Regions from separate parts of the Homo sapiens genome. Here region 1 is linked to region 2. The links come from fine-mapping of genetic effects on gene expression. Tissue or cell type: testis. Region 2 holds a variant in brackets; the other region holds the start of a gene. All regions are shown on one strand. Distances are from middle to middle.

The links. PIP is the estimated chance that this variant, and not a neighbour inherited with it, causes the effect.
Region 1: MICU1 starts here. The variant in region 2 is fine-mapped to the expression of MICU1 in testis (GTEx, PIP 0.95).

The regions. Positions count from the first base shown.
Region 1 is chr10:72,623,288-72,628,808 of GRCh38, forward strand. MICU1 (mitochondrial calcium uptake 1) reads right to left here and starts at 2,792. Exons shown (of 12, transcript NM_001195518.2): 1 at 2,723-2,792. RefSeq lists enhancers at 2,559-3,096, 2,647-2,796.
Region 2 is chr10:72,334,873-72,340,948 of GRCh38, forward strand. It overlaps DNAJB12 (DnaJ heat shock protein family (Hsp40) member B12), which reads right to left. Exons shown (of 9, transcript NM_017626.7): 5 at 5,917-5,996; 6 at 3,330-3,439; 7 at 1,652-1,824; 8 at 908-1,059. The coding sequence ends at 938. Among named protein-coding and RNA genes, the nearest start is that of DNAJB12, 17 kb to the right of the region's middle. RefSeq lists enhancers at 1-354, 915-1,034. The variant C/T (reference allele first, on the strand shown) is at 2,605.

The DNA of each region.
Region 1 (5,521 bases), 290 kb after region 2:
GAGACTCCGTCTCAAAAAAAAAAAAAAAAAAAAAGACAAGAAAAGAAAAGGGAAGGGGAGGGGAGGGAGAAAGAAAGGGAGAAGAAAGAAAAAAAGAAAAGAAAAGAAAGAAAAAGAAAATATGTGTGGAAAAAACAGTTGAGTAAACCTTTTTAAAAAAACTGGTTCTAGTGGCTAGGCATGGTGGCTTGTACCTGCAATCCCAGAACTTTGGGAGGCCAAGGCGGGAGGATCGCTTGAGTCTGGGAGTTCCAAGACTAGCCTGGGTAGGCCAGGTGTGGTGGCTCAGGCCTGTAATCCCAGCATTTTGGGAGGCCGAGGCAGGTGGATCACCTGAGGTCGTCAGGAGTTCGAGACTAGCCTGGCCAACATGTAAAACCCCATCTCTACTAAAAATACAAAAATTAGCCAGATGTGGTGCCGCGCCTGTAGTTCCAGCTACTTCGGAGGCTGAAGCAGGAGAATTGCTTGAACCCAGGAGGCAGAGGTTGCAGTGAGCCGAGATCACACCACTGCACTCCAGCCTGGGCAACAGAATGAGACTCCGTCCCCACCCCTCAACAAAAGGACCAGCCTCGGCAAAATGGCTGAACCCCATCTCCATTTAATTAATTAATTAATTAATTAAAAACTGGTTCTTATTTTAAAAGGGATACACTAAACAACTGCATATGGAAAAAATGGTTAATGTTCAGCAAGTGCTGCAGCCATTGTAAAAATGGCTCAAGAGATAAAGCTAACTTTAAAGACTGAAGGTGGCAAAATTGGGTTTAAAAAAGCTTTATCAATTATATTAGTCCTATAACTCTGAATAGCATAAGATCTGAAGGAGTTGGTCAGTTAAATATTTCAATTATAATTATTTTGCATAATATTGCATTATGGAGAAATTTCATATCGTTTTATTCTTTTGTTGTTGTTTTAAGAGACAGGGTATCGCTCTGTCGCCCAAGCTGGAGTGCAATGGTACGATCACAGCTCACTGCAGCCTCAACCTCGAGGGCTCAAGCCATCCTCCTGTCTCAGCCTCCCAAGTAGCCAGGACTACAGGCATGCGCCCAGCTAATTTTTGTGTTTTGTAGAGATGGTCTTGCCATATTGCCCAGGCTGGTCTCAAACTCCTAGATTCAAGGGATCCACCCGGCCTCCCAAATTGCTGGGATTATGGGCCTGAGACACCACACCCAGCCTGTTTTATTCTTAAACACAGGAAAGTTAGTCTCAAGATGCACTTCTTAGGAATGTAAACAATCTACTGAATATAGTAAATATAAAGGAAGACAGCAATAAACACTTTTGTTCTCTTGCATTTATTAGCTTCTATTAGTTTCTATCATTCTTTCCCTTTCTCCTCAGGCACACAAGCCACTCCAGAATATTCACTTTTTGTTAATATTATGTTTTATGGCTCTCAGTAAGGACACTCAGAAGATGTCAGAGACACTTGCTTGATATATTAGGTAGCCAGAGTGATGTTCTTAAGTGGAAGAGACAATCAGGGACAAACCAAGGATTGGGACAAAGAGTAGCTGGAGGCAAAAGCCACCTTCCTACAGACAAGTGGCAATGGGTTCTAAAGTTTTTAGGATAAGGCAATATTCAAAAAGCTCATTACCTGGTCCACACCAGAAACACAGTAGGTGGGTCATTCTGGCCAACACCTTTGTCTCAAGATACTGACGTTTATTATTTGTCATATGGTCCAATGAAACCTAAACTCTCCTACAGCTATCCACACCGAACTTGTTTCACCTCATGAAATGCAAACTCCTTTCTTATACTGCTCGATCACTTCCCTACGTGCCCCAAAGGGATGTTCTAATATAAACAAAGGCATATCAAAGAAGCCACCCAAACAAGTGAGATAGAAACATTTATTGATAAATAGGAAGAAAATGGGCGTTTCTAAGGTACCACAGGAAAAATAAAATATTTTACTCTAGTCCCTTAGCTATAAGATATTTATTCTACTTATATTTACTAATGGCCACCGTATTTTTTAAGACATGGAAAATTGGAAGGTAAAGAAACCATCAACCATAAGATTACAGAGAAGGCAACTTGAAGAACAGTTTGTTTTAAACTGTTCTCCCAACATTCACATAGAGTCAATAACATCTAGCTCTTTCTCAAAACAGCCTATGGCCGGCCAGAATGCGACGGTGAAAACAAAACAGGGAGAACGTAATGAAAACGGGAAGGCGCTGGAAAAGATAAAAACTGAACAGTCCGAGTAGCCTGCACTTTGTATTTCTCCTTTGAGTCCTCACTGATTTTCCACTTATTTCGATTCAGTGGTTAATATTTCTCCGTATTAGAAATCCATCTGTGAACTCCCGCACCCACTTCTAACCACATCCACAAATTCCAGGAGAGCCAGTCAAGGCTACCAGAGTGTCCCAGTCGCCTGTGAGGAGGGGGGCGTCGGCGCCAAGTTGCGAACCCGGCACTGGGAGAAGTTCTCCCGGGACGGGAGAAGGGACGGGTTGGGGTGAAGGAAAGTGGAGGACGGGAGGCAAGCAAGACTACGGACTCCTCTCCAAAAGCTGAGCGCATCAGGGAGAGACAGGTATCCCGCCAGACCCGAGAAGTAGCCGGATGCCCGGGGCGGACAAACGGCCAGCCACGAAGCCCAGTTCCCTAAGGCTGTCTCGCCAACCCCCTTCCCCTTCGCCTTCCCTAAATTGCTGTCTCCTTATACCCTCCAGAGTCCAAGACTCACGCGTCCAAACACGAGCTCCAGCAGCCTCTCGGTCAAAGCCGCCCACCTCTGACAGCCATAGAGATGAAACAGCGGAGACAAACCTCCACCCCCTCCGCCCACTCTCACGTGACTCTCCTAGCCGCTGGGCCTGTCGGGATCGTGGAGACAGGCGTGTGGGAGGGGCACAGAGGAAAAGGAACGGGGAGGGGCGGGGAAATCAACGCGCCACGCCCCAGCCTCGGGCCCCGCCCTAGCCCCGTCACTCCCCCTTACTCCCCTCAGCGTTTAGGCGGGAAAGCTGGAGAGCTCCCAGAAGCTCTCGGGCATTTCTTCTGGTTTTTTTCCCCTCCACAAGGGTCATAGGAATCTGTTGAGAAATTTACTGTGGCTTGTAACACCTCCTCGGTACCCGTTTTCGTGTTGGCTATGTTGGCTAAGCAAAAAGGAGTTCGTGAAAAGAAAACTGGACCACAGTGAGTTGGAAATTGTTTCTTTCCAACTCCGTTTAGGTTTTCTCAGAGATTAAATGTTCCTGTTTCATAACCTTGAGACTTTTTTGGATTTAGAAACCCTCACCACTTCCTCTGGTGGATGATTTTGTCAGGTGTTTTATTTGCAGACTAATATTATTGCAGAGTTTATAATCTCTAGAAGCCACTTAAAAACATGTTTTCCCTTGAAGAATGTGTTTTTTGTTTGTTTGTTTGTTTGTTTGTTTTGAGATAGAGTTTCACTCTTGATGCCCAGGCTGGAGTGCAGTGGAGCGATCTCGGCTCTCTGCAATCTCTGCCTCCTGGGTTCAAGCGATTCTCCTGCCTCAGCCTCCCAAGTAGCTGGGATTACAGGCATGCGCCACCACGCCCTACTAATTTGTATTTTTGGTAGAGACGGGGTTTTTCCATGTTGGTCAGGCTGGTCTGGAACGCCCGACCTCAGGTGATCCGCCCACCTCGGCCTCCCAAAGTGCGAGGATTACAGGCGTGAGCCACTGCGCCCGGCTGAAGAAGGTGTTTTTATCAGAAAAATGGGATGGCAAAGGATCCTCACCCCTGCTGTGGAAATAGGATGGAAATATGACTATAATACCAGAGAATTTTTTTGGGGGGGGGGCAGCGGGGTGTTGGTTGGTTGTTTGTTCGTTTGTTTTGAGACGGAGTCTCGCACTGTCGCCCAGGTTGGAGTGCAGTGATGCTCACTGCAACATCCTCCTCCCAGGTTCAAGTGATTCTTCTGCCTCAGCCTCCCGAGTAGCTGAGATTACAGGCACGCCCCACCACGCCCGGCTAATTTTTGTATTTTTAGTACAGACGGGGTTTCGCCATGTTGGGCAGGCTAGTCTCAAACTCCTGACCTCGGGCGATCCTCCCGTCTCGGCTTCCCAAAGTGCTGGGATTAACAAGTGCGAGCCACCTCGCTGGTCCCAGAGAACTTTCAAATAATTTTTTTTTCCCAAGAATTTACGTAGCAGAGCTGTGGAAAAGGCAACAACCATGGAAACAAAGCCAACAAAACCATCCCTGGGGTAAATTGTGAAGTAAGCAGAATCAACTCTGTTTTCTCCATTTCTTCTCAGACCCAACTAACCTAAGTACAATAGATGATTGTGTTCATGGCTCTGTGCTAGCGCTTTACATACAACCCAGTGCTTGTCTACAACCACTCTAGGATGGATACTGTTTTATTCATTTGCAGATAGGGAAGCAGGCTGACACCCCTAGGTAATGCAGTACATGCAGTAGCGGGACATAGACCTGACCTGAAGGCCTCTGAGGCTTCCACTCTTAAATGATGTAATTCAGGCCGGGCGCGGTGGCTCACGCCTGTAATCCCAGCACTTTGGGAGGCTGAGGCGGGCGGGTCAGGAGATCGAGACCATCCTGGCTAACACGGTGAAACCCTGTCTCTACTAAAAATACAAAAAATTAGCCAGGCGTGGTGGCGGGCGCCTGTAGTCCCAGCTACTCGGGAGGCTGAGACAGGAGAATGGCAGGAACCCGGGAGGCAGAGCTTGCAGTAAGCCAAGATCGTGCCACTGCACTCCAGCCTGGGCGACAAAGCGAGACTCCGTCTCAAAAAAAGAAAGAAAGATTTGCTGAAATTCAATTCTAATTTTAGGCAACATTTGTCTATATAAAACTAATCAGTCAAACTAACTGTTAAATAACATTTAAAAACATAAATCATTGTTTCTCAAACGTTTTGGTCTTAGGACCCCTATACACTTAAAAATTATTGAGGACTCAAAATAACTTTTATTTATGTGTGTTATACCTATCGATATTTACCATATTCGGCCAGGCAGAGGCTAATACCTATAATCTCAGCATTTTGAGAGACTGAGATGGGATGATCACGTGAGGCTAGGACTTTGAGGCTACAGTGAGCTATGATCATGCCACTGCACTCCAGCCTGCGCAACAGCGCAAGAACCTGTCTCTATAAACTTTTTTTAATTTAGCATATGAGGACTTAAAATTGAGGCCGGGTACAATGGCACCCAGCACTTTGGGAGGCAGAGGCGGCAGATCACCTGAGGTCATGAGTTCGAGACCATCTTGGCCAACATGGTGAAACCCTATCTCTACTAAAAATACAAAAATTAGCCAGGCATGGTGGCACACGCCTGTAATCCCAGCTACTCAGGAGGCTGAGGTAGGAGAATCGCCTGAATCCGGTAGACAGAGGTTGCAGTGAGCCAGGATCATGCCACTGCACTCCAGCCTAGGCCTCAGTGACAGAGCAAGACTCAGTCTCAAAAAAAAAAAAGAGAAAAGAAAGAAAATTAAAATTGAAATTATTTTAATGTGTACTTAGTCA
Region 2 (6,076 bases):
AGAAGAACCTTCACTGCTTCTGCCCACACTTCTCTGGGCTTGGCTGAAGTGGCCACCTCTGGCAAACGCTGGGAACAGAGCCCAGCGCCCCCATTCGCCGGGCTGCAGAAGGAGGGAGCCTGCTACCAGCAACTCTCATTTCCCCTCCACCCCTCCTGTGCTGAGCGGCTGCGTCTGACCCTGAACTCATGACCTTCTGTTCCCTTCCTCAGACCGCAGGCGAGATGCCTGGGCAAGGCCGGATGCCTGTGGCTTCCAGGCTGCCAGGTGTGACGGCATTCGAGAGAGTGCCTCAGATCCCACCAGAGGGGGGTGGTCAGGGCCCGCGGCCCCTGCCGCCACCAAGACTGCCAGCTCCCACCCACCTCGTGGCTGCCTGTTCATCTTGCTCCATTTCCTCCTAGCTGGAGGGATGGAGAAAGGGGAGGGCTCTTGGCCCACCTATTCCCACATGGTTCTTCCTGGTATCAGGCAGGCAGTGTGCATATGGGGCTCTCTTGGGCCCCACCATATGTGATGGCCTAAATACCAGGGCACGGACAATAGTCTGCTGTGCTGGAGAAAGGGCCGTGCTGACTGATGGCTGGAGTGGACCAAGAAGCCCCGGGTGGCCCTCAGCAACAGTTTCAAGTTCCCACTCTGCCTGGTTCTGGGGTCCCCCACACCCCTGGAGCCAGGGAGCAGAGCGGAGGAGTGGGGAGGACAGCATCGCTAGAGGGCGGAAACCGACCTTGGTTTCCCAGCAGGCCCCACAGCTGCTCGGTCTCTGGAGGCTGGAGGTCAGGCTGGGGACAGGAGTCTTTGCCACAATCACCAGGCTTCCTCCCTTTCTCCCCCTCCCTCCTCTGCTCATGACCAGGGCCAAAGCTGCCAGGAGTTGCAGGGTGGAGGCAGCCCTGGCTCATACTTGGACCTCGGTGGTGTGGCTGGCCCAGGACTATCCATGCAGGGAGGCCTGCACCTCTGACAGTCGGCTGCAGCTGGGGGTGCCCATCTTCTGTGCTCTGTGGTACATATCTGTGTCGCCAAAGTAGCGTGCCCGGTACAGCAAGCCTTCCTCTGCAAAGCAATGGGACAGGGTTAGTGCACACCCAGTACCTCCCGAAGCCTGCAAGGAAGCCTGCGAGGGCTGTGGAGGGCGGAGGAAAGCTGGTACATGCCCGGGGCTTGGGCAGGGCTGGCCTCCCATTAGGAAGACCATGGAGGAGCAGAGACTACAGTCCTTATGTGGGCGAGGGTGACAGAGGCGCCTTTCTCTAGAATGCAGTGAGGCCAGCCAAGGTGAGACCCTGTCATCCTGGTCAGGCCTCCCCAGGGTCCCACAGACAGATCCAGGAGCACAGTCAGGGGGTGGCCAGGGATCCATCCGCTCCAGTCCATCTCTACACACTCACCTCTGGCAGCCAACATGCTGGGCTGATGGCAGTGATTTACGGGAACCTGAGGAAACTACCAGGTGGCCCCTGGCTCCCAGCCCCGGAGAAACACAGGAGTGGAGACCAGCTCTTGTCTGGGAGGTGGCTGGTGCAGGGCAGTGCCAGGGGCTGGGCCCTCAGAGCACAGGGTGAGCAGGGCTCTCTCCTTCCCCTGCTTTCCAGCTTCATCCCAAGCCACCTCCCAAATACAGCCCCCGCCTTCCCCCCACACTCACTCTGCTGCTTCTCCTTCCAGCAGTTGTTCCGGAGGTTGGCGATATAATCATCTTCCACATTCCGCTCGACTGTTTTGAGGCTGGAGCCTGTGTACTCTTCGGAGAAAGTGTCTCCCACATAGTAGACGACACCCAGGTGGTCAGTGACTCGCCTGTGGATGTGGCCCACGGACCTGGCCAGAAATACCAGGTTCAAAGTGGGTGCGGGTCCCCATGCCCAGGGCACTCTAGGGGTATGGGCCCCAAGACAGGAGGTGCCGCACAGACCAGAGGAGTAGTTGGTTCCCTCTCAAACCAGAGCAGGGACCCGCACACTCCCTGAAAGGAGAGTCTGAGGAAAAGGCAGCGTCCTCCCACACACGTGGCCCAGACCGCAGGACGCCCTGCCTTTAGATCCCTGCTTACCACACTGCTGACCTGGGGCCTTTGGGGAGAGGCCTGGTCTAGGGAACTGGAGACCTGAGAGGGAATCTGGGCTCTGCCTCTGTGCCTCCATCTCCCCATTCATCCCCTAAGCCAATTGTTGCTGAGTGCTTGCCTGCCTATCTAGGAGTTCCCAGTGTAGGGTTAAGAGGCTTAGGAACAAAATGACAGGAAGGGCTCCAGGGAGCCTTATCCTCCCAGCTCCAATCACAGGCTCTGTCAGCTGTGGGAAGAGCCTTGACACCCAGACAGGACCAGTGCTCTGGGGACAACAGTCCCTGCCCTAGTCCTCTGCTCCTCACATCTCTCCAGTTGCAGGGAAAAGGGCTGGCATCTGGCCACAGGGAGCCTGAGCCGGCGGCCAGGGTCCAGTGGACCGACTCTGCCCCCTGCTGGCTGAGAAGGGTCCTGCCAGCTCCCAGCCAGAGGTGGCCACCTTTTGGGAGAGGGGGACCCACCCCACTGAAGATGTGCACCCACTGTGTAGCTGACCCTGGGCCAGGTGCTGGACATCAGTGAGGGGAGCTGAC[C/T]CCCTAACGGCTCATGAAATGTCCTCAAGTTCACTCCTGGCAGTCGAGACTAAGCATTCATTAAACTAATATTGTTGAGCATTTCTAGTGGGCCAGACATTTTATATGCATTACTCATTAATTTCCACAGCAGGTGGATGTTATAATTCCCATTTTATAGATGAGGAAACCAAGGTTATATAACTTGTTTAGGGTCACACAGCTTCTTAGTGGAGAAGCTGGGATTCTAAGCCATGCTTGCTCTGTCTGACTCTAGTGCCCTGTTCTTTCCACAGCCTCAGGAAGCCCAACCAGAGCCGAGGAGCAGAGGTTCTTCGTCAGGGTTGGCAGGGGAGATGGGCAGGGAAGAGTCACAAAGCCGCCGAAATTATATGCAAAACTCTGTGTGTATATGTGTGCGTGTATGTGTGCATGTGTATTATGTGTGTGCATGTATTGTGTGTGTGTGTACATGTGTATCGTGTGTGTGTATGTGTGTGTGCACATGTGTGCATAGTTTTAGGGAAAAGTTCTGTAGCTCTCGCTGCAATTTCTTAGGGGACCATAATCCTAAAAAGCTTAAGAGTCCTAGTTGAATAGAGAAAGTATATTTTCTTGATTCGAAGCCAGGTTTCTGCATTATGATCGCACACTGGCTGGATCAGGATGGGAAAGAAGGCCCCTGATGGGGCTGAGAATTTAAAGCCCCTTGTCTGCCCATGGCCCGGCCTCACCCATGTACTCACGGTCTTGGACTCAGACTGTAGGGTGGACTGGAGACCATGAGCTGGCTGAGAGCTGACACGAGAATCAGGATGAGGATAGGCATCAGCTGCACAAACACCCCTAGCCCGCCCTGGAGGGAAGAGCCAATGTCACTCTGCTGGACCTGGGTGGGGTGTGGTGTCAGCCATAATCACCACTAGCTCCCCTAGAATAGTGGAGCCTGGGGAGACATGACACCACTCTGCCGTTCCCTCCACGAGGCTCCAAAACACAGACGCTCCTTCACCTGCCAGCTTTCCCAGATAAAAACAAAGCAGCAACTGGTGTGAAATACAGGAGGAAGTGAGGTGTCTGCATTTACTTTTGACAGAATGCCAAAAAAAAAAAAAAATCAGCAAAAGTTGCTTCCTCCAGGAGAATGGAAGGCAGGGCTGGAAGGAGACATGCAGTATATACAAGTTTTTGAGATGTGAACCACACAAATATATTACCAATTTAAACATTATGGCCAGTGTGGCGGCTCATGCCTGTAATCCCAACACTTTGGGAGACCAACATGAGAGGAACACGTGAGGCCAGGAGTTCAAGACCAGTCTGGCCAACATACACCCCCATCTCTACAAAAAATAATAATTAAAACAAAATAAAAATTAGAAATAGCACTGGTTCTAGGGTGCAGAAAAAGCAAACAAACAAAAAAAGAAGAATTAGAAATAAAAATTAACAAATATATTCACTGTGTGATAATCTGTGATGTTAAACTCTTCTGTTGTTAGATACAAAATAAAAAAATTTTGATCAGGGGCAATGGCTCATGCCTGTAATCCCAGCACTGTGGGAGGCTGAGGCAGGAGGACCACTTGAGCCCAAGAGTTTGAGACCAGCCTGTGCTCAAACAGCAAAGTAAGACCCTATCTCTACAAAAAATACAAAAAATTAGCTGGGTGTGGTGGTGTGGGCCTGTGGTCCCAGCTACTGGGGAGCCTGAGGTGGGAGCTTTGCCTGGGAGGGGAGGCTCCTGCACTCTAGCCAGGGTGACAGAACGAGACCCTGTCTCAAAAAAAAAAAAAAAAGGCCGGCATGGTGGCTCACGCCTGTAATCCCAGCACTTTGGGAGGAAGGGGCAGGCAGATCACGAGGTCAGGAGTTCGAGACCAGCCTGGCCAACATGGTGAAACCCCGTCTCTACTAAAAATACAAAAATTAGCTGGGTGTGGTGGCGGGCGCCTGTACTCCCAGCTACGTAGGAGCCTGAGACAGGAGAATCACTTGAACCTGGGAGGCAGAGGTTGCAGTGAGCCAAGATTGTGCCACTGCACTCCGGCATGGGCAACAGAGCGAGACTCCATCTCAAAAAATTAAAAAAAAAAAAAATTGAATAAATATTGTCAGAGCAAAAGGAAACCCCTTCCGCCTGGCCAGAATTTAAAATGTTTTGCAATTGTCCACAATATTTTAATTTTAGCCAGCTAGCTGTTCTTTGATCTGTGGCATACAAAATGTGTTTGAAGCACTGTCTAGTTATAATTTTTATACTTTTTTTTTTTTTTGAGACGGAGTCTTGCTCTGTTGCCTAGGATGGAGTGCAGTGGCACGATCTCGGCTCAACACAACCTCTGCCTCCTGGGTTCAAGTGATTCTCATGCCTCAGCTTCCCGAGTAGGGATTAAAGGCGCCTGCCACTACGCCCAGCTAATTTTTGTATGTTTAGTAGAGACGGGGTTTCACCATGTTGGCCAGACTGCTCTCAAACTCCTGACCTCAGGTGATCTACCCACCTTGGCCTCCCAAATTTTTGTAAATATCTTTTTAAAAGTATCTTTTGGCTTTTTAGCAAGAAGAGTCGGCACCTATGTTGTCATCCTTTAAAATTCTCTCAGTGGCAGAGCGCAGTGGCTCACGCCCATAATCCCAGCACTTTGGGAGGCTGAGGCGGGTGAATCACCAGAGGTCAGGAGTTCAAGGCCAGCCTGGCCAACATGGTGAAACCCCATCTCTACTAAAAATACAAAATTAGCCGGGGGTGGTGGCACGCACCCGTAATCCCAGTTACTCGGGAGGCTGAGGCAGGAGAATGGCTTGAACCCGGGAGGCGGAGGTTGCAGTGAGCCGAGATCGCGCCACTGCACTCAGCCTGGGCGAGAGAGCAAGACTCCATCTCAATTAAAAAAAAAGAAATTTCTCTCACAAAGTTGAGAGAAAATAGCTGAGACCCATGAAAAAAATGAAAAATAAAATAAAATTCTCTCACAAAGTGTAACTTTCCATTGCTTAGAGGATGTCACTTTGGCCTTACCAGCGAGCGGTCTGCATGGGAGCCTCACACTCAAACCTGGCTGTGGGTGGGGTTTCTGGTTCCACTCCCCAGCCAGGCCAGCAAAGCCGCGCTCCCGCCGGCAATGTGGAGCATGGCTCCCTCGTGTGGCGCCCTCTGGTGTCACTCAGCAGAATGGCAAGGGAGGCCCAGAGGGCTCCTTGGCTGAGAGTTATGGGGACTCTGCTGGTCCCAGAATGGACAGTGTGGGAGGGAACACCCTCCTCCAAGCCCCCTCCCTGGGGTGGATTTGGTGCCCTTCCCGCGCTGTCCCTGGCGCCCTCCTCACTCACATCACCCTGGTTGTCCCTGCGGTCCTGCCTTTGCTGGTAGGTATAGCGCATGCGGCCGTTGCTGTAGACGTGGACGTTACCTGGGGGTCAGAGGGGCTGAGTCAGGAGCCAGGTCTGTTGGGAAAGGGAGAGGCTGGCATGCCATTCCCACCATCACCCC